4 separate regions of the Homo sapiens genome follow, and all the other regions are linked to region 3. The links come from fine-mapping of genetic effects on gene expression. A gene starts in region 3. Each other region holds a variant in brackets. All regions are shown on one strand. Distances are from middle to middle.

The links. PIP is the estimated chance that this variant, and not a neighbour inherited with it, causes the effect.
Region 1: its variant is fine-mapped to the expression of GPR162 in whole blood (INTERVAL, PIP above 0.99).
Region 2: its variant is fine-mapped to the expression of GPR162 in whole blood (INTERVAL, PIP above 0.99).
Region 4: its variant is fine-mapped to the expression of GPR162 in whole blood (TOPMed, PIP above 0.99).

The regions. Positions count from the first base shown.
Region 1 is chr12:6,797,797-6,805,923 of GRCh38, reverse strand. CD4 (CD4 molecule) reads right to left here. Exons shown (of 10, transcript NM_000616.5): 2 at 5,737-5,852; 3 at 5,453-5,617. The coding sequence starts at 5,785. Among named protein-coding and RNA genes, the nearest start is that of CD4, 12 kb to the right of the region's middle. The variant G/TG (reference allele first, on the strand shown) is at 4,408.
Region 2 is chr12:6,736,844-6,744,006 of GRCh38, reverse strand. No RefSeq gene overlaps it. Among named protein-coding and RNA genes, the nearest start is that of MLF2, 13 kb to the left of the region's middle. The variant A/C (reference allele first, on the strand shown) is at 2,161.
Region 3 is chr12:6,817,902-6,826,028 of GRCh38, reverse strand. It overlaps GPR162 (G protein-coupled receptor 162), which reads right to left and starts at 4,208. Exons shown (of 5, transcript NM_019858.2): 1 at 4,129-4,208; 2 at 1,264-2,561; 3 at 356-545. The coding sequence starts at 2,130. It overlaps CD4 (CD4 molecule), which reads right to left. Exons shown (of 10, transcript NM_000616.5): 8 at 7,487-7,608; 9 at 7,115-7,182; 10 at 5,230-6,730. The coding sequence ends at 6,700. RefSeq lists enhancers at 4,225-5,197, 6,168-6,668, 6,669-7,169.
Region 4 is chr12:6,788,235-6,796,361 of GRCh38, reverse strand. CD4 (CD4 molecule) reads right to left here and starts at 6,834. Exons shown (of 10, transcript NM_000616.5): 1 at 6,700-6,834. RefSeq lists enhancers at 3,763-3,812, 6,928-6,977, 6,793-7,350. The variant C/A (reference allele first, on the strand shown) is at 3,526.

The DNA.
Region 1 (8,127 bases), 20 kb after region 3:
GGAGTGCCAGCTGGAATGCAGTGACACAATCATAGCTCACTGCAGTCGTGAACACCTGGGCTCAAGCGATCTTCCCACCTCAGCCTCCCAAAGTGCTAGGATTACAGGTGTAAGCCACTACACCTGGCCAACTTGTTTATATCTACAAAAAATCTTGCTGGTATTTTTATAGGAATTGGATTAAACTTGTATATTAATTTGGGGAAAATTGATATCTTTCTTATGTTGAGTCTTCCAATCCATCAATCCATGAGTACAGCATGTCTCTCCATATATTTAGATCTTCTTTGACTTCTTTAATCAGCATCGTGTAGTTTTTAGCATACAATTCAATGCTTTCTTTTTTCTTTTTTTTTTTTTCGGGAGACAGACTCTTACTCTGTTGCCCAGGCTGGAGTGCAGTGGAACAGTCTTGGCTCACTGCAACCTCTGCCTCCCGGGTTGAAGCAATTCTCCTGCCTCAGCCTCCAAAGTAGCTGGGATCAGGCATGCGCCACAACACCTGCCTAATTTTTGCATTTTTAGTAGAGACGGGGTTTCACCATGTTGGCCAGGCTGGTCTCAAACTCCCGACTTCAAGTGATCCGCCAGCCTCAACTTCCCAAAGTGCTGGGATTACAGGCATGAGCCACTGCACCTGGCCCTACGCATGTTTTTTAGATTTACACCTAAGTATTTCTTTCTCTCTTTCTTTTTCTTTTCTTTTCTTTTCTTTTCTTTTTTTTTTTTTTTTTTTTTTGAGATAGGGTCTTGCTCTCCTACCGAGGCTGGAAAGCAGTGGTGTGATCATGGCTCACTGCAGCCTTGCCCTCCTAGGGCTCAAGCAATCCTCCCACCTCAGCCTCCCCAGTAGCTGGGACTACAGGCATACACCATAATGCTCAGCTAATTTTTTTTTTTTTTTTTTTGAGACGTAGTCTCACTGTGTCACCCAGGCTGGAGTGCAGTGGCACAATCTCAGCTCACTGCAAGCTCCGCCTCCCAGGTTCACGCCATTCTCCTGCCTCAGCTTCCCGAGTAGCTGGGTCTACAGGCGCCTGCCACCACATCCAGCTAATTTTTTGTGTTTTTAGTAGAGACAGGGTTTCACCGTGTTAGCCAGGATGGTCTCGATCTCCTGACCTCATGATCCGCCCGCCTCAGCCTCCCAAAGTGTTGGGGTTACAGGAGTGAGCCACTGCACCCGGCCATGCTCAGCTAATTTTTTACTTTTTGTAGAGACAAGGTCTCACTATGTTGCCCGGGCTGGTCTTGAACTCCTGGGCTTAAGCAATCTTCCCACCTTGGCCTCCCAAAGTGCAGGAATTACAGGTGTGAGCCACCATGCCTGGCCTTTTTGAGCAATTATAAATGGTATTGTAGTTTTAATTTCTGTGTACACATGTTCCTTGCTAATATATAGAAATACAATAGATTTTTTATGTTTATCTTATATTCTGCAACCTTGATGAATTCATTTATTAATTCTAAGAAGTTTCTTACAGATTCTTTGAGATTTTCTATGTAATCATGTCATCCACAAATAGGAACAGTTTTATTTCTTTCTTTCTGATCAGTTTTCCTTTTATTTCATTTTTCTTGCCTTATTGCACTGGCAAGGGATTGCAGTATTATGTTGAATAAGAGTAGTAAGAGCAGACATCTTTGTCTTATTCCTGCACTTAGGGAGAAAGAATTCAGTTTTTCACCATTAAATATAATGTTAGTTGTAGTAGGGTGGGTCTTTTGCATTGTGTGTGTGTGTGTGTGTGTGTGTGTGTGCTTTTTATTTTATTTATTTATTTATTTATTTATTTATTTATTTATTTATTTTGAGACAGAGTCTTGCTCTGTCGCCTAGGCTGGAGTGTAGTGGCGCGATCTCAGCTCACTGCAACCTCTGCCTCCTGGGTTCAAGTGATTCTCCTGCCTCAGCCTCCCAAGTAGCTGGGACTATAGGTGTGTGCCACCACACCTGGATGACTTTTTGTATTTTTAGTAGAGGCAGGGTTTCACTGTGTTAGCCAGGATGGTCTTGATCTCATGACCTCATGATCTGTCCACCTCGGCCTCCCAAAGTGCTGGGATTACAGGCGTGAGCCACCACTCCTGACCTTTATTTACTTATTTATATTTTATTTATTTATTTATTTATTTTTTGTGATGGAGTCTCACTCTGTCACTCAGGCTGGAGTGCAATGGCACGGTCTCAGCTCACTGCGACCTCCGCCTCCTGGGTTCACGCAATTCTCCTGCCTCAGCCTCCTGGATAGCTGGGATTACAAGTGCCCGCCACCACGCCTGGCTAATTTTTTGGTATTTTTAGTAGAGACGGGGTTTCACCGTGTTAGCCAGGATGATCTTGATCTCCTGACCTCGTGATCCGCCTGCCACAGCCTCCCAAAGTGCTGGGATTACAGGCGTGAGCCACCACGCCCGGCCCCACAAGCAATTCTTATAATAACACCTTTCCATAGATATTATTAAGTGTTCACTGGTCAGGCGTGGTGGCTCACACCTGTAATCCCAGCACTTTGGGAGGCCAAGGTGGGTAGATCACTTGAGGGTAGAAGTTCCAGACCACCCTGGTCAACATGGTGAAACCCCATCTACTAAAAATGCAAAAATTAGCCAGACATGGTGGTGCACACCTGTAATCCCAGCTGCTCAGGAGGCTGAGGCAGGAGAATCACTTGAACCCAGGAGGTGGAGGTTGCAGTTAGCCGAGATCATGCCACTGCACTCCAGCCTAGGCGTCCAAATGAGACTCTGTCTCAAAAAAACAACAAAAAAGAATATTCACAATTTTATTTCTGTCAAGTAGACTTTCCAAAATAGCTATTATTAGGTCCAAGGGTTTTAGAGTTTTGTATTCGTTAAACATTGCCAGATTACTTTAAATAGTTAGTCTAGGCCGAGTGCGGTGGCTCACACCTGTACTCCCAGCACTTTGGGAGGCCAAGCCGGGCTGATCACGAAGTCGAGAGATTGAGACCATCCTGCTAGCATGGTGGAACCCTGTCTCTAATAAAAAAATAAAAAAGTTAGCTGGGCATGGTGGCACGTGTCTGTAGTCCCAGCTACTCGGGAGGCTGAGGCAGAATTGCTTGAACCTGGGAGGCAGAGGTTGCAGCGAGCTGAGATCGCGCCATTGCACTCCAGCCTAGGTGACAGACCGAGACTCCGTCTCAAAAAAAAGAAAAAAAGTCTAATAATTGGTAGTCTCATTATGATATAACTTAAGGAAGGAGTAGGAAAAAAGGTATATACAGTATGATATCATTTACGTAATTATGTATATAATATTCTCCACGCCGAACAACAGTGGAAGAAAATAGGCCACATGCAGTGGCTCATACCTATAATCCCAGCACTTTGGGAGGCCAAAGCGGGAAGATCACTTGAGCCTAGGAATTCAAGACCAGCCTGAGCAACATGGTGAAGTCTCATCTCTACAAAAAGTAAAAAATTAGGTGAACATGGTGGCGTGCACCTGTAGTCCCAGCTACTGGGAAGGCTGAAGTGGGAAGATCACTTGAGGCTGTGATGTGTTGTGGTCATGCCACTGTACTCCAGCCTGGGCAGCAGAGTGAGACCCTGTCTCAAAAAGAAAAAAAAAAAAAAAGATTGGAAGAAAATCAATCAAAATGTTAGCAGAGGATATCTCTGAGTGATAGAAGTATGCATGCATTTGATTTTCTTCCATATTCTTTTCTTCATTGACCAAATATTTTGTAATGAGCATATAATAGTTTTAAAACCAGGAGAAAAGGCCAAGTGCAGTAGCTCATGCCTGTAATCCCAGCACTTTGGGAGGCTAAGGTGGGAGAATCACTTGAGGTCAGGAGTTCAAGACCAGCCTGGCCAATATGATGAAAACCGGTCTCTACTAAAAATACGCAAATTAGCCGGGCATGGTGGCACACGCCTGTAGTCCCAGCTACTCAGGAGGCTGAGGCAGGAGAATTGCTTGAACCTGGGAGGCAGAGCTTGCAGTGAGCCAAGATCATGCCCACTGCACTCCAGCCTGGGCAACAGATCGAGAGTTTGCCTCAAAAAAAAAAAAGTAGAAAAAAATGATTCTGGGCCGGGCACAGTGACTCACGCCTGTAATCCCAGCACTTTGGGAGGCCAAGGAGGGTAAATCACGAGGTCAGGAGATCAAGACCAGCCTGGCTAACACCGTGAAACTCTGTCTCTACTAAAAGTACAAAAAATTAGCCAGGCATGGTGGCATACGCCTGTAGTCCCAGCTACTCGGGAGGCTGAGGCAGGAGAATCACTTGAACCCGGGAGGTGGAGGTTGCAATGAGCCAAGATCACGCCACCGCACTCCAGCCTGGGCGACAGAACGAGACTCTGTCTCAAAAAAATAAATAAATAAACTAATAATAATAATAATAAATNTGCAGCTTTTTTTTTTTTTTT[G/TG]AGATGAAGTCTTGCTCTGTCACCCAGGCTGGAGTGCAGTGGTGCAATCTCAGCTCACTGCAGCCTTTGCCTCCCAGGTTCAAGCGAGTCTCCTGCCTCAGCCTCCTGAGTAGCTGGAAGTACAGGACTGCACCCCCACACCTGGCTAATTTTTGTATTTTTAGTAGAGACCGGGTTTCACCATGTTGGCCAGACTGGTCTTGAACTCCTGACCNCCGGTGATCTGCCCACCTCAAACTCCCAAAGTTCTGGATTACAGGTGTGAGCCACTACAGCCGGCCTTTTTTTTTTTAATTAAAAAAATTTTTTTTGGCTAGGCATAGTGACACACACCTGTAATTCCAGCACTCTGAGAGGCCAAGGTGAGTGGATCACTTGAGCTCATGAGTTCGAGACCAGCCTGGCCAACATGGTGAAACCCTGTCTCTATAAAAAATACAAAAATTAGCCTGGCATGGTGGTGCATGCCTGTAGTCCCAGCTACTTGGGAGGCTGAGGTGGGATGATGACTTGAGCCTGGGAGGTGGAGATTGCAGTGAGCCGAGATCACACCACTGCACTGGAGCCTGGGTGATAGAACTAGACCTTGTCTCCAAAAAAAATATATATATATTTTTTTTCATAGAGACAGAGTCTCACTATGTTGTTCAGGCTGGTCTTGAACTCCTGGACTCAAGCAATCCTCCGGCCTCAGCCTCCCACAGTGCTAGGATTATACATATGAGTCACTGTGCAAAGTATTATCTACATAGGTCTGTAGCAACAATACTCAAGAAATCACGGGTTTTAAGTGATAGTGATTGTTCTAAAACTCACTAAAATAAGTTCATGAATATTAAATATTAAAATATTGAAATTCACATACCACCTTTCCCTGGGCCACCAGCAGTTGGTGTAGAGAAACTCTGGATAAGAATGCCACTGAGTTTCTGTCAACCCAAGCCCTCTGGGATCCCAGAGTTTAACTAAGACCAGATCTCAGACACCAAAGGCTTTCACTCCATAGTGTGTTTTCCTCCCTGGATGGGGAGCCAGGCAACCCTACCTTTAGTTAAGAAGGAGCCCTGATTTCCCAGAATCTTTATCTGGTTGGAGTTTTTCCAGTGGAATTGTATGCTCTTCTTCTGGGAAGCTGTACAGGTCAGTTCCACTGTATCCCCTTTTTTGCCCAGCACCACTTTCTTTCCCTGAGTGGCTGCTGGGAGGAGCGCTAAGTGGAAAAGAAAGGAGTCAGGTCTCAATGTCGCCGCTGTCCCCCTCTACCCCATCCTCCACCTTTGCCTTTCCTCCCACGTCATCTGCATTGAGACCCCAGGTCTGAGAACTTACCCAGTTGCAGCACCAGAAGCAAGTGCCTAAAAGGGACTCCCCGGTTCATTGTGGCCTTGCCGAGGGAGGCAGGGGCCTGAGCCAGTAGGGACCTGAGCCCACAGAAATGGCAGGGCCTGAGGGAAATGCCAATCATTAGTCAGCAAACATTTACTGGACCTGGAGTATACAGGGGCGATACACAACCTCTCCCTCAGGACCCTTGCAGCCAGCCTAGTGAACTTGAGGCAGGAGAATAGCAGAGGGAATTGGAGGTTGGATTAAGGAAGGAATGAGTAGGAGCAGAAGCAAGAGAAAGAGGCAGGTGAGCAAAAACAGAAGATAAATAAGTGAATAAGGAGCCCCATGGCTGGCTAGATCCAAACCAAACCAGTTAGGAGCAGCTCCTAAGAGATGGGCATATACTAGGCTGGGTGCGGTGGCTCATGCCTGTAATCCCAGTGCTTTGGGAGGCCGAGGTGGGTGGATCACTTGCGGTCAGGAGTTCGAGATCAGCCTGGCCAACATGGTGAAACCCCATCTCTACTAAAAATACAAAAATTAGCCGGGCGTGGTGGCATGCACCTGTAGTCTCAGGTGCTTAGGAAGCTGAGGCAGGAGAATCACTTGAACCAGGGAGGAGGAGGTTGCAGTGAGCCAAGATTGCACCACTGCAAAAAAAGATGCACATGTACTACAGAGAAAAGATATCCTCAAAATGACCCCGTATAGTAATTAGCTACTTAAGGTTCATGCCTACAGAGTGCATATCATGCATGTACTTAAAACTATGGGAAGGAAATGACACGTAAACACACAGAGGCCAAGAAACTAAGCAACCCACCTGTCAACCAAAAGGCACATGCTGGCTAAAGCTTAGGCAGCTTGAGGAAAAAGAGAAAAAAAACACATAGAAAAGGCCATGAAATATAGCAAAGTGATGCTGATACCATTCGCAGGTCATCCTTGATCCATAGTGGATCGTACTGTGCTTAATAAACTTTTGCTGCTTTGCTATTTGTGTGTGTCATGTCCAATTTTTTGTTTGCGGCACCAACAACTTGGGACTTCACAACATCAGCCAGTAACAAAGTAAACTTGCACACCCCTAACTGGATGCTCTGAGATACACACCACGAAATGCTATGCTCAGGCCAGGAGGGGGTTCTTTGCTGGGATGAGTGAGGAGGGGATCAGAAAAGGATGCATGGAGAAGGTGGCAAATTGGCGGGGAGACCATGGAGCCAGGCCAGGACGTGGAAATGCTTGAAGGCCGTGCTGAGATGCTGGGACTGGATCCTGGGCACTAGAGAGCCAGCAGAGGATTTTCTATAGAGAAGAAGATTATTAGATTTGCCACGTGGACCCCTGCAGCTGCTGAGTGAAAGAACTGGAGGAGGCGAGGCACCAAAGGCAGAACTGCAACCATCCTGGTCAGCAAAGGGCCTGAGCCAAGTGGCTGTAGAAATGTGTGGGACAGTTCTAAGGTGACGTTCCCAAGAATTGGGGCCTGATACAGCGTGAGAGGTATGGGGAAAAGAAAGAGAGATCAGATTGTTACTGTGTCTATGTAGAAAAAGGAAGACATAAGAAACTCCATTTTGATCTGTACTAAGAAAAATTGTTCTGCTTTGAGATGCTGTTAATCTGTAACTTTTGTCCCAACCCTGTGCTCACAAAAACATGTCCTGTATTGAATCAAGGTTTAATGGATCTAGGGCTGCGCAAGATGCACTTTTAAAAAGTTCTTGCCTCACACGTGTAATCCCAGCATTTTGGGAGGCCAAGGCGGGCGGATCATGAGGTCAGGAGATCGAGACCATCCTGGTGAACACGGTGAAACCCCATCTCTACTAAAAAAATACAAAAAAATTAGCCGGGCGTGGTGGCGGGCGCCTGTAGTCCCAGCTACTCGGGAGGCTGAGGCAGGAGAATGGCGTGAACCCGGGAGGCAGAGGTGGCAGTGAGCCGAGATCGCGCCACTGCACTCCAGCCTGGGCGACAGAGCAAGACTCTGTCTCAAAAAAAAAAAAAAAGAAAAGTTCTTGCAGGCAGTGTGCTTGGTGAAAGTCATCACCATTCTCCGTTCTCTATTAACCAGAGACACAATACACTGTGGAAGGCCGCAGGAACCCCTGCCCGAGAAAGCCTAGGTATTGTCCAGGTTTCCCCCCACTGAGACAGCCTGAGATATGGCCTCATGGGAAGGGAAAGACCTTACAGCCCCCCAGCCCGACACCCGTAAAGGGTCTGTGCTGAGGAGGATTAGTGAAGGAGGAAGGCCTCTATTCGGTTGAGATAAGAGGAAGGCATCTGTCTCCTGCTCGTCCCTGGGAATGGAATGACCCGGTGTAAAACCGATCATACATTCTATTTTGAGAGAGGAGAAAACTGCCTTATGTCTGGAGGCGA
Region 2 (7,163 bases), 82 kb after region 3:
AGCAGTTTGGGAGGCCGAGGCGGGCGGATCACGAGGTCAGGAGATCGAGACCATCCTGGCTAACACGGTGAAACTCTGTCCCTACTAAAAATACACACACACACACAAATTAGCCAAGTGTTGTGGCAGGCGCCTGTAGTCCCAGTTACTCAGGAGACTGAGGCAGGAGAATGGTGTGAACCCGGGAGGCGGAGTTTGCAGTGAGCCGAGATCGTGCCACTGCACTCCAGCCTGGGGGATAGAGCGAGACTCTGTTTCAAAAAAAAAGAAACAGAGCAGAGATACCTTGGGAAAAGCCAAGATGACACTGAGGTGGTGTATTAGTCCATTTTCACACTGTTGATAAAGACATACCCGAGACTGAGTAAATTATAAAGAAAAAGAGGTTTAATGGACTCACAGTTACACATGGCTGGGGAGGCCTCACAATCATGTTGGAAGGCAAAAGGCACGTCTTACATGGCAGCAGGCAAGAGACAGAATGAAAACAAAGCAAAAGGGGTTTCCCCTTATAGAGCCATCAGATCTTGTGAGATTTATTCACTACCACGAGAATAGTATGGGGGAAACCACCCCTATGATTCAATTACCTCCCACCGGGTCCCTCCCACAATACGTGGGAATTACGGGAGCTACAATTCAAGGTGAGATTTGGGTGGAGACACGGCCAAACCATATCAGATGGGAAATGCTTTGGTGAAAGTAAACAAAGCTGTGTTCCTAGAGCACCACTGGTGACTTCAGATAAAGATGTTATGTATTTGAGGTGGGGGAATTCACAATTCACAAGGAATATGGCAGGGAAGAACAGAAGCCGATTCCCAATACAGATGAATCTTAATTTCAGCAAGCCCAAATATGTCATAAATGACAATTTCAGACTTAAAAAGAGACCTTAGAGATCATCTGCTCTGGAAATTCCCAAATGTGGCAGTAGGTCTGCTTTCAGACATACTAAAGCCGAATGTCAGGGTTGGAGATGATTCAGATGCCCCTTATCAGTCATTCCAGATATCATCAAAACCCCCCTTTCCATTTTCTTCTGAAGAAACGGAGAAGTGATTTGTTCAACATCATACAGCTATCTGATAGTAGCACAGAGAGAGCCAGGACTCAAAACCTAGATTGACAGAAATGATACTAATATGCTGTATGGAATGATTCACCATAGAAGTCCTTTAAATAGAAAATTTCCTGCAGGGCGTGGCAACTCGCACCTGGAATCCTAAACACTTTGGGAAGCTGAGGAGGGAGGATTGCCTGAGCCCAGGAGTTCGAGACTAGCCTGAGCAACATGGTGAAACCCCATCTCTACAAAAACAAAAACAAAGCCGGGCGCGGTGGCTCACACCTGTAATCCCAGCACTTTGGGAGGCTAAGGCAGGTGGATCACCTGAGGTCAGCAGTTCAAGACCAGCCTGGCCAATATGGTGAAACCCTGTCTCTACTAAAAATACAAAAAATTAGCTGGGTGTGTGTAGGGACCAGCCCCACAGGGTCGGTGGGTCTCTCCCTGTGTGCGGTGATGAGAGAGCATAGAAATAAAGACACAAGACAAGGAGATAAAAGAAAAGGCAGCTGGGCCCGGGCGACCACTACCACCAATGCGCAGAGACCGGTAGTGGCCCCGAATGTCTGGCTGCGCTGTTATTTATTGGATACAAGGCAGAAGGGGCAGGGTAAAGAATGTGAGTCATCTCCAATGATAGGTAAGGTCACGTGGGTCACGTGTCCACTGGACAGGGGGCCCTTCCCTGCCTGGCAGCTGAGGCAGAGAGAGAGAGAGAGGAGACAGAGAGAAAGACAGCTTACGCCATTATTTCTGCATATCAGAGACTTTTAGTACTTTCACTAATTTACTACCGCTATCTAGAAGGCAGAGCCAGGTGTACAGGATGGAACATGAAGGCGGACTAGGAGCGTGACCACTGAAGCACAGCATCACAGGGAGAGGGTTAGGCCTCCGGATAACCGCGGGCCAGCCTGACTAATGTCAGGCCCTCCACAAGAGGTGGAGGAGCAGAGTCTTCTCTAAACTCCCCCGGGGAAAAGGAGACTCACTTTCCCGGTCTGCTAAGTAGCGGGTGTTGTTCCTTGACACTTTTCGCTACTGCTAGACCACCTCCCAGGTTCAAGTAATTCTCCTGCCTCAGCCTCCTG[A/C]GTAACTGCAATTACAGTCGCATGCCACCACGCCTGGCTAATTTTTTATATTTTCGGTAGAGATGGGGTTTCACCATGTTGGCCAGGCTGGTCTCAAACTCCTGACTTCAAGTGATCTGCCCACCTGGGCCTCCCAAAGTGCTGGGATTACAGGCGTGAGCCACAGTGGCCGGCCTGCTTTGTGCATTTTAAAGCGCTTTAGTTAAATGCATAGACATTTAGAATTATTGTATCTACTTGGAAAACCAAATATCTTATTATGTAATGTCTTTTTTGTTTTGTTTTGTTTTTTTTGAGACAGAGTCTCGCTCTGTCACCCAGGCTGGAGTGCAGTGGCATGATCTCGGCTCACTGCAACCTCTGCCTCCCAGGTTCAAGTGATCCTCCTGCCTCAGCCTTCTAAGTAGCTGGGATTACACGCCTGGCTAATTTTTTTGTATTTTTAGTATTGATGGGGGTTACACCATGTTGGCCAGGCTGGTCTGGAACTCCTGACTTCGTGATCTGCCCACCTCGGCCTCCTAAAGTGCTGGGATTACAAGCTTAAGCCACCAAGCCCAGCCAATGTCCCTCTTTATCTCTGGTAATTTTCTTTGCTCTGAAGTTTAGTTAACTGTTACTACAGCCATTTTCAACTTTCTTTTGGTTAGTGTTCATGGTACGTGTTTCTCCATCTTTTTACTTTTAACCGACCTATGTCATACTTAAAAGTATTTGTTTTCTTTTTTAAGACACTGTATTTCTGGGTCTTTTAAAAAAATTATTTTGGCCGGGCGCGGTGGTTACGCCTGTAATCCCAGCATTTTGTGAGGCCGGGGTAGGCAGATCACGAGGTCAGGAGATCGAGACCATCCTGGTTAACACAGTGAAACCCCATCTCCACTAAAAATACAAAAAAAATTAGGAAGGCGTGGTGATGGGCGCCTGTAGTCCCAGCTACTCGGGAGGCTGAGGCAGGAGAATGGCGCGAACCGGGGAGGCGGAGGTTGCAGTGAGCCGAGATCGCACTACTGCACTCCAGCCTGGCAACAGAGTGAGACTCTGTCTCAAAAAAAAGAAAAAAATTATTTTGATATTTTTTTAAAATAGAGATGGGGTCTCTATTCACTGTGTTGCACAGGCTAGTGTCAAAATCATGGGCTCAAGTGATCCTCACGCCTCAGCCTCCCAAAGTGCTGGAGTTAAGAAGTGAGTCTTTTTTTTTTTTCTTTTTTTTTTTTTTTTGAGACAGGGTCTCACTCTGTTACCCAGGCTGCAGTGCAGTGGCACAGTTACAGCTCACTGCAGCCTTAACTTCTCAGGCTCAAGCAATCCTCCCAACTCAGCCTCCCAAGTAGCTGGAACTACAGATGTATACCACCAGCCTATCCGTCTTTTAATTGTAGTTAGGCCATTTAAATTTAATATAATTGCCCAGGTGTGGTGACTCACACCTGTAATCCCAGCACTTTGGGAGGCCAAGGCGGGAGGATTGCCTGAGGTCAGGAGTTCGAGACTGTCCTGGCCAACATGGTGAAACCCTGTCTCTACTAAAAATACAAAAATCAGCTGGGCTTGGTGCATATGCCTGTAATCCCAGCTACTCGGGAGGCTGAGGCAGGAGAATAGCTTGAACCTGGGAGGCAGAGGTTGTAGCAAGCTGAGATCGCGCCACTGCGCTCCAGCCTGGGCGACAAGAGTGAGACTCCATCTCAAAAAAATAAATAAATAAAAATAAAAAATTAATATAATTAGTATGTTTGCATTTATCTCTTTTTTTTTCTTTGTTTCTTTCTTTCTTTTTTTTTTTTTGAGACAGAGTCTCACTCTGTTGCCCAGGCTTCAGTGCAGTGGCACGGTCTCGGCCCACTGCAAGCTCCGCCTCCCGGGTTCATGCCATTCTCCTGCCTCAGCCTCCCAAGTGACTGGGACTACAGGTGCCCGCCACCACGCCCGGCTAATTTTTTTGTATTTTTAGTAGAGATGGGGTTTCACCATGTTAGCCAGGACGGTCTCGATCTCGTGATCCACCTGCCTCGGCTTCCCAAAGTGCTGAGATTACAGGTGTGAGCCACCGCGCCCGGCAATATTTCTATTATTTATTATTTATTTTGTTTGTTCTGTTTGTAATTTCTCTGTCTCCATTTTCCAGCCTTGTATTGGTTTACTTGAATGTTATTTAGTATTCCATTTTAATTTATGTACAGATTTTTTTCACCCAGTAAATCTCTGTATCATTTTCTTTTCTTTTTCTTCATTTTTTGAGTCGGAGTCTCGCTCTGTCGCCCAGGCTGGAGTGCAGTGGTGTGATCTCGGCTCTCTGGAAGCTTCGCCTCCTGAGTTCACGCCATTCTCCTGCCTCAGCCTCCCGAGTAGCTGGAACTACAGGAGCCCGCCACCACGCCCGGCTATTTTTTTGTATTTTTAGTAGAGACGCGTTTTCACCGTGTTAGCCAGGATGGTCTTGATCTCCTGACCTCGTGATCCGCCCGCCTCGACCTCCCAAAGTGCTGGGATTACAGGCTTGAACCACCGCGCCCGGCTTTTTGTTTTGTTTTTTGTTTTTGAAACGGAGTCTTGCTCTGTCGCCCAGGCTGGAGTGCAGAGGCGCGATCTCGGCTCTCTGCAAACTTAGGCTCACTGCAACCTCCGCCTCCCGGGCTCAAGTGATTCTCCTGCCTCAGCCTGCCGATTAGCTGGGACTACAGGCGCCCACCACCATGCCCAGCGAATTTTTTTTTTTTTTTTTTTTTTGAGACAGAGTCTCGCTCCTGTCGCCCAGGCTGGAGTGCAGTGGCGCGATCTTGGCTCACTGCAAGCTCCGCCTGCCGCGTTCACGCCATTCTCCTGCCTCAGCCTCCCAAGTAGCTGGGACTACAGGCGCCCGCCACCACGCCCGGCTAATTTTTTTTTTTTTTTTTTTTTTTGTATTTTTAGTAGAGACGGGGTTTCACCGTGTTAGCCAGGATGGTCTCGATCTCCTGACCTCGTGATCTGCCCGCCTCCGCCTCCCAAAGTGCTGGGATTACAGCCGTGAGCCACCGCGCCAGGCCTAATTTTTGTATTTTTAGTAGAGACAGGGTTTCACCCTGTTGGCCAGGATGATCTCGATCTCTTGACCTCGTGATCTGCCCACCTTGGCTTCCCAAAGTGTTTGGATTACAGGCATGAGCCACCGCGCCTGGCTTTCTTTTCTTTAGTGGTCGCTCTAGGACAGGCATTGGTGACATCTCGCCTCACTGCAACCTCTGCCACCTGGGTTCAGGCAATTCTCCTGCCTTGGCCTCCTGAAAAGCTGGGATTACAGGCGCCTGCCACCTCGCCTGGCTAATTTTTGTAGTTTTGGTGGAGGCGGACTTTCACCATTTTGGCCAATCTGTTCTTGAACTCCTGACCTCGTGATCCACCCGCCTCGGCCTCCCAAAGTGCTGGGATTATAGGCAAGAGTCACTACACTGGGCCGGCAAACTTTTTCTGTAAAGGGCCAGATACAATAAATATGATGAGCTTTGTCAGCCATACAATGTGTGTTGCAACACCCAAATCTGATGCTGTAGTGCAAAAGCAACCATACATGATATGCAATGAATGAGGTGTAACTACAGTCCAACAAAACTGTATTTACAAAAACAGGCAGTGGGCTGGATTTGGCCTGTGGAATATGGTTTACTAACCCTTACTATGGGGATTACAAAATACATACTTTTCACAATCAGAGTTTTTTTCTACCACTTCAAGTTAAATGTAGAAATTTTACCACAACATAGCTCCCTTTACTGTCTCATCTCGTAGTTCTCATATGTGTTACTATAAATGACAAACACCACATACTACAAATACTGAAACTCCACATACTAAACGCTAAAAATGCTTAGTTCTAGGTGAATTTATCTATTGATTTTTAATTTTTGAGACAGGGTTTCACTCCTGTTGCCCAGACTAGAATGCAATGGCACAATCTTGGCTCACTGCAACCTCTACCTCCCAGGCTCAAGCAATTCTCCTGCCTTAGCCTCCCAAGTAGCTGGGACTACAGGCACAGGCCACCATGCCCCACTAATTTTTTTTGTATTTTTTATAGCGGCGAAGTTTCACCATGTTGCCTAGGCTAGTCTAGAACTCCTAGGCTGAAGAGATCTGCCCATCTCAGCCTCCCAAAGTGCTGAGATTATAGGTGTGAGTCACCACACCTAGCCTTCTAGGTGAATTTATTTATTTCTTGAGACGGAGTTTCACTCTTCTTGCCCAGGCTGGAGTGCAATGGCGCGATCTCAGCTCACTGCAACCTCTACCTCCAGGTTCAAACAGTTCTCCTGCCTCAGCCTCCCAAGTAGCTGGGATTACAGGCATGCACCACCACGCCCGGCTAATTTTTGTGTTTTTAGTAGAGACAGGGTTTCACCATGTTGGCCAGGCTGGTCTCCAACTCCTGACCTCAAGTGTTCCGCCCGCCTTAGCCTCCCAAAGTGCTGGGATTACAGGCGTGAGCCGCGGTGCATGGCTCTAGGTGAATTTATAATTGTTTTAAAATTATATTTAGAGAATTCCCTCTTGAGACAAACATCAAATTTATGATTTTCTTTCAGCTGTCATAAACATTTTAAAGAACTTAAGAGGAGAAAAATAATCTATTATATTTACCATTGCTGCTGCTCTTCATCCTTAATGTTCCGTGTTTCCTTTGGTGTCATTTCTCTTCTGCCTAAAGAACTTCCTTTAGGATTTTACAGCGGGTTTTCCGGTGACAAATTCTTATTTTCCTTCACCTGAGAATATCTTTATTTCACATTCATTCCTGAGCAATATTTTCACTGGATATAGGATTTTGAGTTAATTCCCTTAAGCCCCTTAAAAGTATCATTCTAGTTCCACCTGACTTTCATAGTTTCTGACGAAAAATGTGCAGTCATTTGAGTCATTTTTATCCTGTGTGAAAAGCACTGTTTTTCTGAATGCTTGTGGGACTTTTTTCTTTGTCTTTAACCTTCGGCAATTTTATTCTGATGTGTCCAGATATGGATTTT
Region 3 (8,127 bases):
GTGGAGTGCTTCATACATATAGATGAAGTTATTGAAACAATTGCCTGCACTCCCCCAAGAGCCGTCCCTATAGCTGGGGGGCCTCTCTCGGGAAGCTCAGGTTCCCCATAGTGCCAGAGCTGGGCAGTGTGGGTTTCTGGAGGGGAGCCTAGGCCCAGTGAAGGGAGCCCTGAGTGCTGCGGGAAGCAGTGAGTGGACAGCAGGGTGCCTGCTTAGGGAAAGGGGAGCCCAGGGTGGTGCAGATTCTGTCCAGTAGGGGGCACTCCAGGGCAGCCCATCCTCTGGCTGAGAAGGAGCGGCAGAAAAGGGAATAGACAGATGTCCAGGAAAGCCAAAGCCCAGCCCCTCCTCTGACCGTCATCTCCATCCTCCTCAGACATGATGGCCACGCATTGCTCCCACACTGTGCGCACGTCGGCGCGGTAGCGCTCGCAGGACCAGATGAAGGAGGGCAGCAGCAGCGTCTGTGCCATGGAGCACCACAGCACAGCCAGCACCATCCAGGGGGGCGCCGAGTCCGACTTGAGGGAGAAGAAGCTCACCACCTGGGGAAGGGTGGGAGCGGGCTGGGTCAGGGCCAGAGCTGAGGAGCCCACCTGAACCCCATATCCTAGTGCAGCTGGTGGGCAAGACGTCAGAAGTAATGCCTGATCCCTGTGCTCCAACAGAGGCGAAGCCGGAGGTGGAGATGGAGTGAACAGAGGGAAGGGACTGACTCAGAGGAAGGTCGGGGAGAGTGCTGGAGACAAAGCCCTGCGGTCAGGAGGGAGAGGAACAGAGGTGGACCAGGAACCGTAGAGACAGACAGGAACCCAGGAACAGTGACTAGATGGGGTGGTGGGGTGAGCCCTGTGGGATTTCCAGCCAAGAGTGCTCAGAGACCATGTGGCAGCCCGAGGGAAGGAGGGAATGGAGAGTGGAGCCCAGCGGCTGGATGAGAGGTCTGCGGCTGAACCGTGGAGCTGCAGGATGGATGACGGAGCTGGAGGACAGGTCGTGGAACTGAAGGACGGTGATGGAGCTGAGGAGTGGGAACTGAAGCAGATGCTGGAGCTGGGGTAAACAGGGTAGTGGGAACTAAAAGACAGATGATCAAGATGGGGGCCACAAATGGAGTGGGGGATGGACAGAGGAGAGGAAGATGGATGATGGAACTGGAGGAGAGATGACGGAGCTGCTGTATGGCTGATGAAGTTGGAGGTCAGGTGATGATGCTGGGGCCTGGATATTGGGGAGAACAGGTGGGGAGGACCCCGATCTCACCAAGATGGGCACCCCTGTGAGTGAGTCATAGAGAAAGACGATGGCGCTGACCAAGTTGGTGACCTGCAGGGATGTCTTGGCAGACTCCGAGCCATCCAGCGAGGACCGCCGCTTCCCTCGGGCATCCTCCACCACAATGGCTGGTACCTCAAAAGCTGGCCGGGTACCCAAGGCCCCTGGCCCACCCGCTTTGGTCCCCCCACCACCCCCCACTCTCCGGGCCTGCCGAGCCCTCCGGGGCCGGGCCCACAGTGTCTGGTAGAAGGTGATGGCCACACAGACCAGACCCATGACAATTCCCCCAAGTAGCAAGAGGCTGAAGCAAACGCCAAAGCCGAGGCCGATCTTGGAGACTATGAACTGGCAGCCGCGGGCATAGTAGCGCTCGCCGTTGTTGTGCCAGCCAATGGAGGGCAGTGTGGAGAGGATGAAGCTGACCATCCAGATGCCCATGACGGCATGCAGTGCCTGCTTCTTGGCGTTGCTGAGGCGGTAGTTGACGGGCCAGCGCACCATCCACATGCGATGGTAGGAGAGGGAGGCGACCGTGAAGCAGGTGGCCAGCGCCAGGGTGTAGTAGGTGGACACGAAGACCTTGCAGATACTCTCGTTCCAGTCATAGTCGGAGGAAGCCTGACGACGCAGCTGCACCACGGCAAAGGTGGTGAGGGGCACAGCTGCCATGAGTATGTGTGTGCCCGCTAGGAAGCAGAGCAGCAGCTCCAGTGGCTTGTGCTTCTGCTGCTTGGCCGAGATGCTGAGGATGATCCAGGCATTGGCCAGCAGCGCCAGGAGCCCACAGGCCAGCCAGGACAATGCGTTGGAGCGCAGGGAGGCCTCCTCTGCCCCCGCCCCGCCCCGAGCCATCCTATCCTCAGCCCCCCACCCCCTTGAGCTCTGTGGGGGTGGGGGCTAGGTCTCACCCAGGAGCCCCACTCACAAACACTCCCATGATCCCCACAATCCTCGCCCTGTCAGCAGGCAGGCTGCCCCCAGGCTCACCCCAGTGCTCAGCATTGCATGATGGACCCAGCTGAGGGCAGATGTAGAGGGCAGGGGAGGAGACTGAGGGTCAGCAGAGGCAATCCTCAGCTTTCATACTGGGCGGGGCCTTCCTTAAGCATCCCTGCAATTGATGGGGCAGGCAAGCTGGCTACTTTCCCAACTATGAGGCTGGCTGGGGGGTTCTGGTCCCCATGCTGGGACTTCCAGGTCTCTTTTGCCTCTGGTTCTTGACCAGTCAGGAATCTTCTGGATGCCCCAGGGATTTGGGGGTGGGGCTCAGCCCCCTGGACAGGCTGCAAGGGAAAGATGAGATGTGGGAGGGAGAGGGCAAAGGTAGGGCCTGGGCTGGTCTCCAATCAGCCTCCTGTGCCCCCTTTCTTGAAACTATAGGCATGACTGATTACTAAGGCCCTGAGGGTCATTCAGAACATTCCTTTGCCTTAACTCTGACAGCTAAACACCCCACACAGATGAGAGCCGCACTCTTCCAGACCTCTAGGGAAGAAGGTATTCCCACCTCCCTGTCTCCTTTAGCCCTTCCTCCTCCCGCTGGAACTCCCAGGTTCCTTCTTAGAACATCCCCTGCTCAGCACTACTCCACCCCTATCTTCAAGTCCCTAAATGTCTCTTCAGAACTACTGATGGGAGACACAAGACTGGTTTCCTCTTGAGGGTTCACAGTGAACTGGGATATGGCATCACAGCCTTCCTCCCCTACCTGCCGGTCTCCTGGATGCAGGGGTCTTGGTGCTTAGCCCCTACTTCCCCAAACCTGGGTGATCACCCTCCAGCTACCCATATCTGGGAAAATGGGAGAAAGGAGTCTGGGACCGAAGGGGGTGCTAGGGAACCTGAAGGCGGGGAAACCGCTGACATCAGAAGCATCCAGAAATGGAAAGAGGGGGAACTAGGGAGAAGGAGGAGAGTTTGAGCAGAAGAGAAAGAGGGGGCAAAGTGGTAGTATCTGAAAATAGCAGGAAAAGCTCAAACCCCCTGGAGAGGAGGCTTTGGAGGGAGGAGGGACTGGAGGAGGGAGGGAGGGAGGGAGCAGGGAATAGGAGGCTGAGAAGAAAAGCCAAATGTTCAATAAGGTGCTGACTCCCCGTGGGGAGACCTTGACTCTTCCTCCCTGGCCCAGAGCCTCAGTTTCCCTCTCATGGGAGGAAGGATGGTCCCAGTTTTAGTGCGTGATGCTGAGCTTCAGTGAGCCCTGGGAAGGGGGGTAAGGGAATCGGGTGAAACCCTGAACAGAGTGGGGCTGTAAGGAAGCACATAATGGCTTTAGGGTAAGTGGGGTAAAAATGGGGCACAGCAGTGAAAGGGTCTGTTTCCCATGGAAGCAGCTCAGACCCTTGCTTTCCCCAAGAGGTCCTGGTCCACCCCCACCCTTGGCTTCCCTCCGGAGCCCAGTACACCCTAGTTGCCATGGCAATGGCCAGCCAGAGGGAGGTGGAGGGACTTGGCCAAGAGCAGCCCCCAGTGTCCTCTCCTACAGCCCTGGACCCCTTCCCACCCACCTCCACCCAGGCCCAGCTGGTGGGCTCAGGATGAAAGAGATAGGGAGTCAGAGAGGGAAGGAGGCAGGAAAGATGTGAAGGACAGAGAGAGGGAGGTGAAGGACAGGGAGAGATCAGAGGAAGGTGGGAAGGGGGATCTGGGAGGTTCCCTGGCCGACGGGGTCCCTCGCCCTTTGGGGTGAAGGGGTAAGGTCAGGCGGCTCCTCCCTCCTGTCCCCCTCCAGGTTCTCCAGGGCAGAAACAGCAGGTGGCTGGGGAGGAGGGGCCGGCCTAGGGGAGAGGAGGCAGCTTGAGGGGGAAAGGGAGGCAACACAGGGGACGGGGCAGGCAGGGGTCGTCTTACCTCTCTCCGGCTGCGCCCAGCACTGCCATGGAGACCGCACTCCCGACGCGGCTCTCTCGGGCTCCCGCTGCCTGCCGGCTCCAGCTCGCCCGCCCTCCTCCCTCCTTCCCTCTCTCCCTCCCTCCCTTCCCCCGGGCCTCCCTCCTCCCCCTCAGTCCCGGCCTCCCAGGCTCAGCCCACGGCTCACTCGGTCTCTGCCCCTCTCACTCTCCAGGACCCTCTCTCCCGGGGTCGTCCTGCCAGTGAGCCCAGGCCAGAGGGAAGGCAGGACAGCTTTGTGGGGGGCGGGGGGGGGCGGGAAACGAGTGCAGGGTGGGGAACTGGACGGTGGTGACTCGGGGAGGAGGGGCAAGGAAGGCGCTGAGAGGGAGGGCGGTGAGGAGGATGGCTGGGAACCGGCTTCATTGGTGAAATGGTTCATGTCCTGCCCCCACCCCTTCCCGTTTTCAACACGAACACAAGCTCCAAGAGGCAGCTGGTGTTGTTGGGGACTGAGGAGCTAGCTGTTCGGGGAGGAGGAAGCGTGTGTCACTGTGTGTATCTGTGTGAGGGCTGGGCCTTGGGTTTGGGAGTGAGGGGGCTTGTGGTGCACACTGGGGCTGCTTGTGGAGTTGGGGGTGGTTGTGCACAAGCTAAAAGGATGTGGGCGCATGCATGCACACAGACACACACACTCTGCCTCCTCCTCCTGGAACACAAACACATATGTTGGGGATACAATTTGCACACACATGTTACAGTTTCTCATAGTCCTTTTTCTCTGCCACACACATACACCAGGAGAGCTCACACAACCCTGAGTCTCTCCCCCACGGTATATCACACACATGTAATTACAGAGTCTCAGCCTCACACACACACAGGCCCACACAGAGCCCTGTGGGTTGTGGAGGTGGGTAGCCAGCCTCCACAGAATTTTTCCCTCTCCAGGGAAACTTCATCTCCTTCCTGGGGCACGCCCAGCAACCTCTCCTCTGGGTCCGACCCCAAAGACCAGAAGATTCCTGGTCCCCAGAGAAGGGGTCTCTCTCTCTCTCTCTCTCTCACACACACACACACACACACACACACACACACACACACACGAAGAGCATCTTTATAGTAAGTTTATTGTATTTTTATTTCAGCTCAGGGGAGCAGGGGTGGAGAGTGGGCACAAATGCAAAGTAAGCAAATGGGGAGCCCCAGCAGCAATAGGGGGGTCTTCCTGGAAGAGGCAGGCTTTAAAGACAGGAGGAGAAGGAAATAGGGAAAAGGAGTTGGGACTGAGGGAAGTGGTGAGGAAGGGTAGGAAGAGAGGGGATCCTGAGAGAAGTGGATCAAGAAGATTTGTAACCCTGATTTCCCTGTGTCCTGAATGGTCTGGAGGAGGGTAAGGGAGGGTGTGGGGCAGGCGCAGAGCCTGGCACAATCACCTTTGAGGTCCCTTAGAGGGTTCCCTCTCAGGCTAGCTACCCCCTCTCCCAGCAAAGCTCGCTTCCAGGAGGTTCTGCACAGGGTCAGTGACTGGTCACTGGGCATTCTCTCCTGCAGTGCCTGTGCTCCCAGCTTGCGCTCTGATTAGAAGAGCCAAAGGCTTTGTCCTCTGGTAACAGATTCTGCCACCAGCGGGGGATGAAGGAGGGATTTTAGACAGGGAGGCCTTCATCCCTGCTCGTAAATTCTCTGAGATGGACCCTTCCCATGGGTGCTGTGCTTCTGTGAACCCAAAAGTACACATTGAGTACCCACCACTAGCCACTGGTGAGAGCCGTGTGGCATTTGTCCCTGCATTCAAGAGGCAGCAGTGGAACTTGGGACAAGGGACCTGGGTTAGTCCCGACTCCAGCACTTGCTAGTCCGGCACTTGGTAATCAATCATCTAGCCTCTCTGAGCTCTGGTTCTGGTCTATAAACTGGAGATGATCATCTTAGTTCTGTCACTGCCAGCCTTGTAGGATTTTTCTAAGTCTCAAATAGACAGAGGATGTGAGACATCCCTTGAGGCCGTGTACATGGGGCTGTGTCCAGAGGGGCTGTTTGTGCAAGGTCAGGATGTGAGTCTGTGGTCCCACCCACATAGGGTGAGAAGCGGGCAGCATGGGGCAGGAGGTACTGGCTGCCAGAAACCTCTGGATCTGCATCCATCCTTGACTGGCTTGGCTGTGTGATTTTGTGCAAGTTCCTGCCCTCTGTGGTCCCAGGGTCCTGTCTTGTAAAAGAACAGTCCCATGCTCCATGCTTCCAGACACCCAGCCTCACCCTCCATGCCAGCCAGGGCTGGCCCTGAACACTCCCCTGGGATCCAAATGAGCAGTGGGGAGAGGGTCAGAGAGAAATAATGAGAGAAGGGCTAGGCTTGAAGGAAAAGGAAATGGCGTGGAGGACGGTGTGATTAAGCCTCTGGAAACTAGAGAGCAACACTCAACCAGTGAAGCCGGGGCCTAACCCAGGAGAAACAATGGCAAATTGTAGAGGAGGCGAACAGGAGGCCAGAGGCTGGGGATCTGCTACATTCATCTGGTCCGCAGGCAGGAAACGCGGGGCAGACACCTGGGGAGGCTGCAAGTGGGATCTGCCTGGCCTCGTGCCTCAAATGGGGCTACATGTCTTCTGAAACCGGCTGCAGGAACAAAGAAGAAGGGGAGCAGGTCTGTCCCCACTGCAACCCCTTTGCGTTCTAGCACCTCCAATGGCCTTTCCAGCGCAGCACAGCTCCAGTGGCTTTCCAGCAGGGCCTTTCCTGGCCTGCTGCTCCTTCAGCTCCATCCTCCCACTTCTGCCTCCTTCTAGCTCCTGGCCATCTTTTCCCACCCCTCTATCCTCTCCACCACACCCCTTTAGCCCCCATCTCCTCACCTCCACCCCTCCCAGCTCTTCCTCCTCAACTCCTTCCTCCTCTCCATCCTCCCTTCCTGCCCCCCTTTGCTCCCCTTCCTCCCCCTCCTCTCTAACTCCCTCCCCCTCCCCCTTTCCCCTCTCTCAACCCCTCCTCCCAGATCCTTACTGAGGACACTGGCAGGTCTTCTTCTCACTGAGGAGTCTCTTGATCTGAGACATCCGCTCTGCTTGGCGCTGTCCAGGGACAAGAAAGGGAGTCACGAGGGTCCCAGGCCTCCAGAAGGGAGGTGCCCCTTGGTGGGGGGAGTGGGGGAAGCTGCGACAGGAGAAGCAGTTACATGGCCCAGGCCATCTATCCTGGAATTAACTCTCTGCTCCTTCCTGTCTCTCCCTTGAGTGGGATCTGGGACAGGGCAGCAAGGGAACTTACGAGTGGGCAGAGGGAGCTGGGCCAAAATCAGTTCCCATATACAGGATCTCCTGGTAGAGGACTCAGGGGTTTGAGGGCCTTGTGGGGACCAGGTGTGGGGTTACTCACCCTTCGGTGCCGGCACCTGACACAGAAGAAGATGCCTAGCCCAATGAAAAGCAGGAGGCCGGCGACGCCCCCCAGCACAATCAGGGCCATTGGCTGCACCGGGGTGGACCATGTGGGCAGAACTGCAAGGGAGAGAAATGTGCTCAATGCACCGCCCTCCTCCACGGGCCAGGGGACTGAGGACTGCCCTGCAATCCCTCCTGGCCAGTCTCTGGTTTGACCCTGGGGTTGGGGGAGAGGGGAGGGGTGCCTGGGGGCTCTCAAAGGCCGCCAGTGCTGGGGAATCGGTTTTATGTTTGGGCATATCCATATCCAGGGCACTCTGGAGAGAGAGAAGCTGTGGTCTGGCTCCTGGGCTGTGTGTGTGAGTGCATGTGTGTGTGCATGTGTGAGTGTGTGCATGTGTGTGCGTGTGTGAATGGTGTGAATGTGTGTGTGTGCGCGCGTGTGCGCGTGTGAGTCCATGTGTGAATGTGTGTGCGTGTGTGCATGTGTGTGAATGTGTGCCTGTGTGCGTGTATGAATGTGTGTGCGTGACTGCATGCATGTGCGCGCGCGTGTGTGCACATGTGTGAATAATGCGTGTGCGGATGTGAGTGTATAAGTGTGTGAGTGTACGTGTACGACAGTGTGTGGGTGAG
Region 4 (8,127 bases), 30 kb after region 3:
TCCCCCAGTGGCATCTTTGCCGTTGAAGCTTGGTGACGATCTGCCTACTCTGAAGTCCCACAGCACCCCGTTGACATGCTCCTGGGTGTGTTCCACCTTCTACTTTGTGTATAGTGATTTGGTTTCTCAACTCTCCTCCTCTAGCTTGAGCCCCTTGAGGACAGAGATGACAGTCTAGCCAGCTGTGTGGCCACCACAAGCCTGGCAGCAGCTGAGACATAGAGAGAGGACTTGGTATGGCTTTGGCTAACTTAAGCCAAATTGAATTGTATGGAGGAGCGAAAGTCACTGATTTCTTCTTTCTCTATTCACCATATTAATTCTGTTTCTAAAACGGGTCACTGAAATGTATGCACACATCCAGCCCAGCCTGGATGAAGCCCAGTCGCCCCAATCCAAGCTGTTCATCCCCACGGGGCCCTGCCAGCCACTCTCCATCCTGTCTGTGGCTCTCCACCAAGGGGCTGACAGCCACACATGGCTCATAGGCTCTCTTGCCCTCCAGCACCAGTCGGGGCTGGCCAGTGGGAAGTGCCTTTCAGAGATGAGATGGAAGGGTGGGGGAAAGAAGCTGGGATATTTTTCCTACTCTATCCCTGCCCTGGGCATATTTTCTGTCAATAGCTGTGTGTTCATCCTCACCTGCAGCCCTGCCCCTCCACAGCTTCTGTGGGGTGGCCCCTTATCCAGAGTGCAAGCACTCTCTGGGTTCCAGAAACACCATTTTCACTTCTTCAGGACTCTTCCTGCTGTTAATAGTGTCTGTGCTTCAAATTGATTGATTCCCTTAACCTATGTGAATAACCCCCTTTCTACAATCTCTTGAACCATGGGAGGTGGACTGTGTTTCCTGCTGGGCACTAAGACACAATCTGTGGAGAGGAATGGGGCACTCAGAAGGTGTGGGGGCTTGGTCCTCTTACGGTGGTTTAGGAGAAGATAAGAAAAGTGACTCCATCTTTGTTAGCTGCCTCCAGTTACTCCATCTGCCTGGAAGAGGAGGTAGCCAGGGCTTAATACGTGGTAGGTGCTTGAGATAGACAGGTAGGTAGATAGATGGATGGACAGATAGATAGATAGATAAAATAGATTAGATAGACAGATTAGATAGATTAGATGATAGATTGATAGATTAGGTAAATAGATTAGATAAACATACAGACAGATTAGATAGATGATGAATAAGATAGATAAAATAGATTAGGTTAGACAGAAAGATAGATTAGATAGATAGATAGATAGATAGATAGATAGATAGATAGAGACAGACATTTAGGGACAGACACAGTGGCTCACACCTGTACTCCCAGCACTTTGGGAGGCTTAGGCGGGTAGATCACCTGAGGTCAGGAGTTCAATACAAGCCTGACCAACATGGTGAAACCCTTCTCTACTAAAAATACAAAATTAGCCGGGCACAGTGGTACGGGCCTGTAATCCCAGCTACTCCAAAGATTGAGGCAGGAGAATCGCTTAGAACCCAGGAGGCGGAGGTTCAGCAGTGAGCTGAGATCGCGCCACCGCACTCCAGCCTCGGCGACAGAGCAAGACTCTATCTCAAAAAAAAAAAAAAAACAAAAAAAAAACAGACATACAGACAGATAGATTAGATAAATAGATGATAGATAAGATAAACAGATAAAATAGATGAATTAGATTAGACAGTCAGACAGACAAGATAGATATATAAGGCCGGATGCAGTGGCTCACACCTGTAATTCCAGCACTTTGGGAGGCCAAGGCAAGTGGATCACCTGAGGTCGGGAGTACGAGACCAGCCTGGCCAACATAGTGAAATCCCATCTCTACTAAAAATACAAAAATTAGCTGGGCATGGTGACGCACGTCTGTAATCTCAGCTACTTGGGAGGCTGAGGCAGGAGAATCACTTGAACCCGGGAGGCGGAGGTTGCAGTGAGCCGAAATCACGCCACTGCACTCCAGCCTGGGCAACAGAGCGAGACTCCATCTCAAAAAAAAAAAAGATAGATATATGTCCAGGCACGGTGGCTCACGCCTGTAATCCCAGCACTTTGGGAAACCAAGGTGGGTGGATCACTTTAGGTCAGGAGTTGGAGACCAGCCTGGCCAACATAGTGAAACCCTATCTCTACTGAAAATACAAAAATTAGCCAGGAGTGGTGGTGGGTAGTCCCAGCTACTGAGGAGGCTGAGGTAGGAGAATCGCTTGAACCCGGGAGGCGGAGGTTGCAGTGAGCCGAGATCGTGCCACTGCACTCCAGCCTGGGTGACAGAGTGACTCTGTCTCAAAAAAAAAAAAAGATAGATAGATCAATAGATAAGATAGATACATAAAGATAGATAGACAGATATAGATAGATTAGATAGATAGGTGATAGATAGATAGATAGATAGATAGATAGATAGATATAGATAGATAGAAGCCGGGTGTCGTGTGTGGTGGCTCATACCTATAATCCAGCACCTTGGGAGGCCGAGGCAGGCAGATCACTTGAGGCCAGGAGTTTGAGACCAGCCTGGCCAACATCATGAAACCCCCGTGTCTACTAAAAATACAAAAAAATTAGCTGGGGATGGTGGCGGGCGCCTGTAATCTCAGCTACTTGGGATTACTTGTAGTGCCACTGCACTACAGCCTGGGCGACAGAGTGAGATTTTGTCTCAAAAAAAAAAAAGATAGATAGATAGATAGATAGATAGATAGATAGATAGATAGATAGATAGATAGATGATAGATAGATACAATTTTGTTTAAACCGGGGAAGTAGGAAGAAAAGAGGTCAGGAAGGAGGTTTCTGAAAAAGGAGGAAGGGAGACTAGCCACCAGTGATGGTGAAGTGTTTACAGGTTAGCATGCAGATGGGAGGCATCTAGGGGAAGGCTGCAGTGAGAAGAGTAGAATAGGAGTAGCCTCATACCAAAGAGTGGTTCCCACTGTCCCCCATCCCAGACTGACTGGGTCCTTGGTGAGCAGGGGATGAAAGAGGGGAAGTCTCCATAAACGATATCCCTTCTCTGGGGTCCAAATTCAGCTTACCCTGATAAGATGCCTGGGGAAGACTAGAGGCATTCTTGACCCTTCCCCATATGGTGGCTGTTTTGACTCCCCCAGCTCCATGGTCCTGAGGTATGTGCAGACAGCCACCTCCCTGCCTCCAGCTCCCTGTTCTGCCTCATCTCACCCCAAGGCTCTGCTAAGTGGAGGAGGCTGTGGGTTTCCAGCATGCTTGCTTTGGTGCTTTGGGCTTCCGCTGCCACCCCAGAGATCTGGCCTTTGATTCCCATACTCAGCGTCCCCAGAGGTGTCTTACCCTAGTACGGTAGCATCCTGTATACCAGCACTCCGAGAGAGGCTGGGAGGGCTCTCTGGTCCCTCAAGCCCTGGCACGTCTCTCTCTCTCTTTCTGTCTCTCTCTCTCCCTCCTTGCTTCTCAGCTCACATCTGTGCATTTCTGTATCTATGCTTCCCAGCCCCCAGCTTATGCCCCCAGCCTGCAGCTCCCTGTGTCTGTGTCTGTCTTCCTCTTTGCCTCATATACCAGG[C/A]GGCCGTGCTGGCTCTCCCGGGCTCCCCTGGAATGCCCCTTGCCTCTTCTCCTTTTTCAGCTTCCCCTCTCAGGCTGCCACTAAGCTCTAGCTCCTTCCGGTCTGTACACAGTCCTCCTGGCCTTTGGCAGCAATGCAGACCCTGGACAAGCTTTGATCTGTGGGGAGCCTGCCGAGCACGCCTGCAGCCCAGGGTGGATGTGAGGGAGCCGGCTGCAGGGTGGGAGGGACACATGGACAAAGGGAAATGGACAGAGTTCCCCAGAATGCACAGAGCCTCAAGGGAGGAGGGGAGGGAAAGATGTGGGAGAGAGAGACCTGGAGCAGCTTGTTAAAGCAACAGCTATGCACACACAATCCACAATCACACACAAAGCGCAGGGTAGTACAAAAAAAGAGGAAAAGAAGAAATTCTGAGAAGCAAGACAGATGCACAGAGCATAGATCCAAAGTGAGGCAAAGAGAGACTGAGAAAGAGAAGAGACCAAAATGGCAACACACACCACGCACTTTCTCAGAGCCTTGAGGTTCCTGCCGCCCTCACCCCTGGCCCCCAGGGATGGGATGAGGGGCGAGGCTTGGGAGGGTAAGAGGGCCCAGCTCCACCACAGCGAGAGTCTGTGGTCCCACAGGCACTTTTATCTTCTCCCCATAACCCCCAAGCAGCCCACTCAAGCCCAGCCGCGGGATGTGCCCCACCGCGTTCACCCTCTCTACTGCTGACTAGCTTCCTATAAACTTCCTAGAGACTGTGACCCCTCTAAGGAACTCTTGTGGTTGGTGGCTGCAACCTCCGCCATCCTCTTCTTCGCCTCAGACACCCACATCGGGGGAACCGTGCCCACCCTCCTTCCCTCATCCCCTCAAAGGTACAGAACAGAGCTCAAACTCAGAGCCTTGCAAACCCAGACCCCTGCCCACCTACTTCTGATTCCCCACCTTCATCAAAGTTATTTTGAGACAGGGCCTCACTCTCGCCCAGGCTGGAGTGCAGTGGCACAGTCAGGCCTCACTGCAGCCTCCGTCTCCCAGGCTCAAGCAATCCTCCCACCTCAGCTTCCCAAGTAGCTGGAACCACAGGCACACACTACCATGCCCAGCTAACTTTTGTGGGGTTTGTAGAGATGGGGGTTTCACCATGTTGCCCAGGCTGGTCTCAAACTCCCAGGTTCAAGCCATCCTCCTGCCTCGGCCTCTCAAAGGGCTGGGATTACTGGTGTGGGCCACCACGCCCGGCCCATCACAGGTATTTCATTCAACAAACATTTATTGAGTGTCTAAAATGTGCAAGACTGGCCCAGTATGGTGGCTCACGTCTGTAATGCCAGCACTTTGGGAGGCCAAGGCGGGCGGATCATTTGAGGCCAGGAGTTTGAGGCCAGCCTGTCCAACATAGTGAAACCTGGTCTCTACTAAAAATACAAAAAGTAGCCGGGCGTGGTGTTGGGCTCCTGTAATCCCAGCTACTCAAGAGGCTGAGGCAGGAGAATCGCTTGAACCCAGGAGGTGGAGGCTGCAGTGAGTGGAGATCACGTCATTGCACTCCAGCCTGGGCAAGAGAGCGAGACTCCGTCTCAAAAATAATAATAAAAAATAAAACGTGCAAGACAATTGGTCTAGCCAATTGCCCTCAGCACCACCCCGCCATTACGGCCAGGGTCAGAGCCTAGGGCTGCCCCCAAGCTCTGTCTAGCACCAGTGGTGGGAGGAGTTTTTATCTAGATATAGACCTCTCCTATGTAAGTGCTCCCACATTGAAAGAGGGAAATCATCTCCCGAGTGTCTCTAACGCTGTCCTCAGGGGCTCTTTCATCTGACTTTGAGGGCGGCGGCCATTTTGTATCAGCCTACAGCATCTGATACAGCACAAGGAATTATTGGTCAAAATGTGAAGTAGCAGTGACTTCCCCCATCAGGCCCTGCTCTTAGCCTTGCCCCGATAAAAATGTCCACCACAAGAGCAGGGCATTCAGGAAGCACTATCCCACTCAGAGTGAAATCTTTGAATTATTGAGAACAGGGCCTTTCCGTTTTGAGGGATCAGAACGTACCCCAGGAAACCTCTCTCCCAGAAGAAGCCTATGAGGGGAAAGCAGAGGACACTGGGGATAGCACGGCTTCAAGGCCATGAGGTCTCAGGGGCTGGAAAGGTCTGAGGGCGGAAAGGCTGAGATGGCACAGGGCTTCCCTTCAGGAGGGACAGTGAGTCCTCACTCTCCCTCACACCCTGCCAGGCCCAGGAGGGGCTGCACATCCTTCTGTAACTCTCCCGGCCTCATGAGACCCCTACCACCAATTCTTTTCGAATCCGTTTCTTAAATGACATATTTATCTAAAGATATGTATCTGCAACTTTTAGGGCAATTCATACGCAAAAGCTCAGTTTCAACACTTTCTGAGAATTTTAGCTTTCCTATTTCATGAATCATTTTAAAGCTAACTAGAGTAGAAGTGCCTTTAGACATTGTTCAAAAATCTTAAAAGAGCAAAGAAGCAGACAAAAATTTAAAAATACACACAGAAACACAAAAGGTAGTTAAAAGAGACTATTACATAGATCATGCGACTTATGAAATGCTGCAAGTATGATATTTGGTGTCAATTTTTGGAGATTGTCCCGTTAAGGAAAATTGGTTTTGCAAGAATTTTCTCTAGACTAGATTCCACTTCTTTTGCTCTTTTTCTTGTTTTTATGTTTTTCCTCATCATTTCTTTTTTATAGGTTTCCTCCCACCTTATATTTATTTATTCTTTCTAATTTTTTCCCTCCCCTTCTTCACTCTTTTTCTCCTCTTTTCCCCTCTTCCAGTCTTCTCCCCTCAACTGCCCACGACTAGTTGCCTTCCACGCCTTTCCCAGCCTGGGATAGTCTCCAGTCTTCACTCCCTCTCTGATCTTGCTATTTAGGTCACTACTCCTCTAAGGAGCACCCATTGCTCTGGACACTGAGCTGTGCACGCTGGGGCTGCAGAGAGGAGTCTAGCACAGTCTCTGACCTCTGGAAGCTCACAGTTCCAGTGGGAAATCGCTGCTCATGACCAGTTCCAAGAGAAATGCAAGAGAAGGTGGCCAGAGCTGTGGGCAGACAACTGGGCAGAGCACATTCCTGTGCATCTGCCCCACGTTCCCCTCCCTCTCAGCTCCGGGGAAGGAAGCCGAGTCTGACCACCTTACCTCTGGGCTTGCGTCTTTCTTGCCCGCTGCTTCTCAAACAGGCGTATCTGTGTGAGGACTTGGAGCTCTGCAACCAGGAGCCCAGTGGGGAGGGTGCTTTGTTCCTTCTGCAGAGTCGTGCTTAAATGAAGAGAGACAGGAAGCCCGATGGCAAGGCTCCTCCACACCCTAGGCCTGGGCCGGCCCCAAACGTCACCAGCTGGAGCTGGGTTCCCCACCCCCCAGGCTCTCAGGGAACATGTCAAAGTGAAAATGCCAAAGTCAAGGGAAAAAGTTAAGCAGAATCAGGCTTAAATCAGGAGTCAAACTGTCACTGCCACTGTTAAGCGGCAAGAAAAAGATGGCAAGAAAGATTCCATTAGTGGTAGCGCCATGTCTGACCAGGCTGTGGGGAAAGAAGTGGGAGGCAGTTGGGGGCATATGGGAACAGCAGTGGTAAGCCCACAAACAGCTCCTTGCTCTGGGGCCCTGAGGGCATGTGTCCAGTGGGTGCCCCAGGGGTATCTGTGGAGGCTTTATAGGTGGCCCAGTGTGGAAGAGAGGGCGTGGGCTGAGCAGAGAATATCTGAGACACCAGGAGTGACTGTTAACCAGGCTCTGTTCCTCTAGGCGTCTCTGGCCAGGCCTCAGGTGCTTTCCTCTAGCCCGAATCTACCATGAACTCTCTATGTGAGTATCCGTCTGCCCATTGGACATCTCCACTGGGAAGCTCACCGGACATAGCAAACTCAACACACATCCCCAACTATGCATACCACCTGCATACTACCACCCTCCAAACCTGCTTCTCCAGGCTTCTCACTCAGTGAGGGGCTCACCATCCACCAACTTGCCCAAGCAAAATAAATTGGGTGTAATCTTTGACACCCCCTTCACCCAACTTCTCCCACGTATTTATTTACCAGTTCCTGTGGATGTTACCTTCTAAATGGCTCCAAAATCTACCCAAGTCACTCTGCACTACCACTACTGCCACCATGCCAATCCAAGATGCCAATATCATCCCTTGCTCGGACAACAGCTCCTGCCTCCTCACTGGTCGCCATTCTCCATACCACAGCCCAAGTGATCATTTAAAGATGCACATGTGAGTGTGCGTTTTCCAGTCTGAAAAAAGTGGGGCTGGGAGTGGTGGCTCATGCCTATAATCCCAGCATTTTAGGAGGCCGAGGTGGGGGGATCGCTTGAGCCCAGGAAGTTGAGGCTGCAGTGAACCGTGATTGCACCACTGCACTCTAGCCTGAGTGACAGAGTGAGAACCTGTCTTGAAAAGAAGAAAAGAAAAGAAAAGAAAAGAAAACTCTAGTTCAGCTTGCGACTCCAACAATTAACACAAGTACCCCTATTTGACAGCATTGTACTTCATCTGTAGCATATAGTACTGTGTGCTACTTCTCATTTCATGACACACCGTACTCAAGGGTTGAG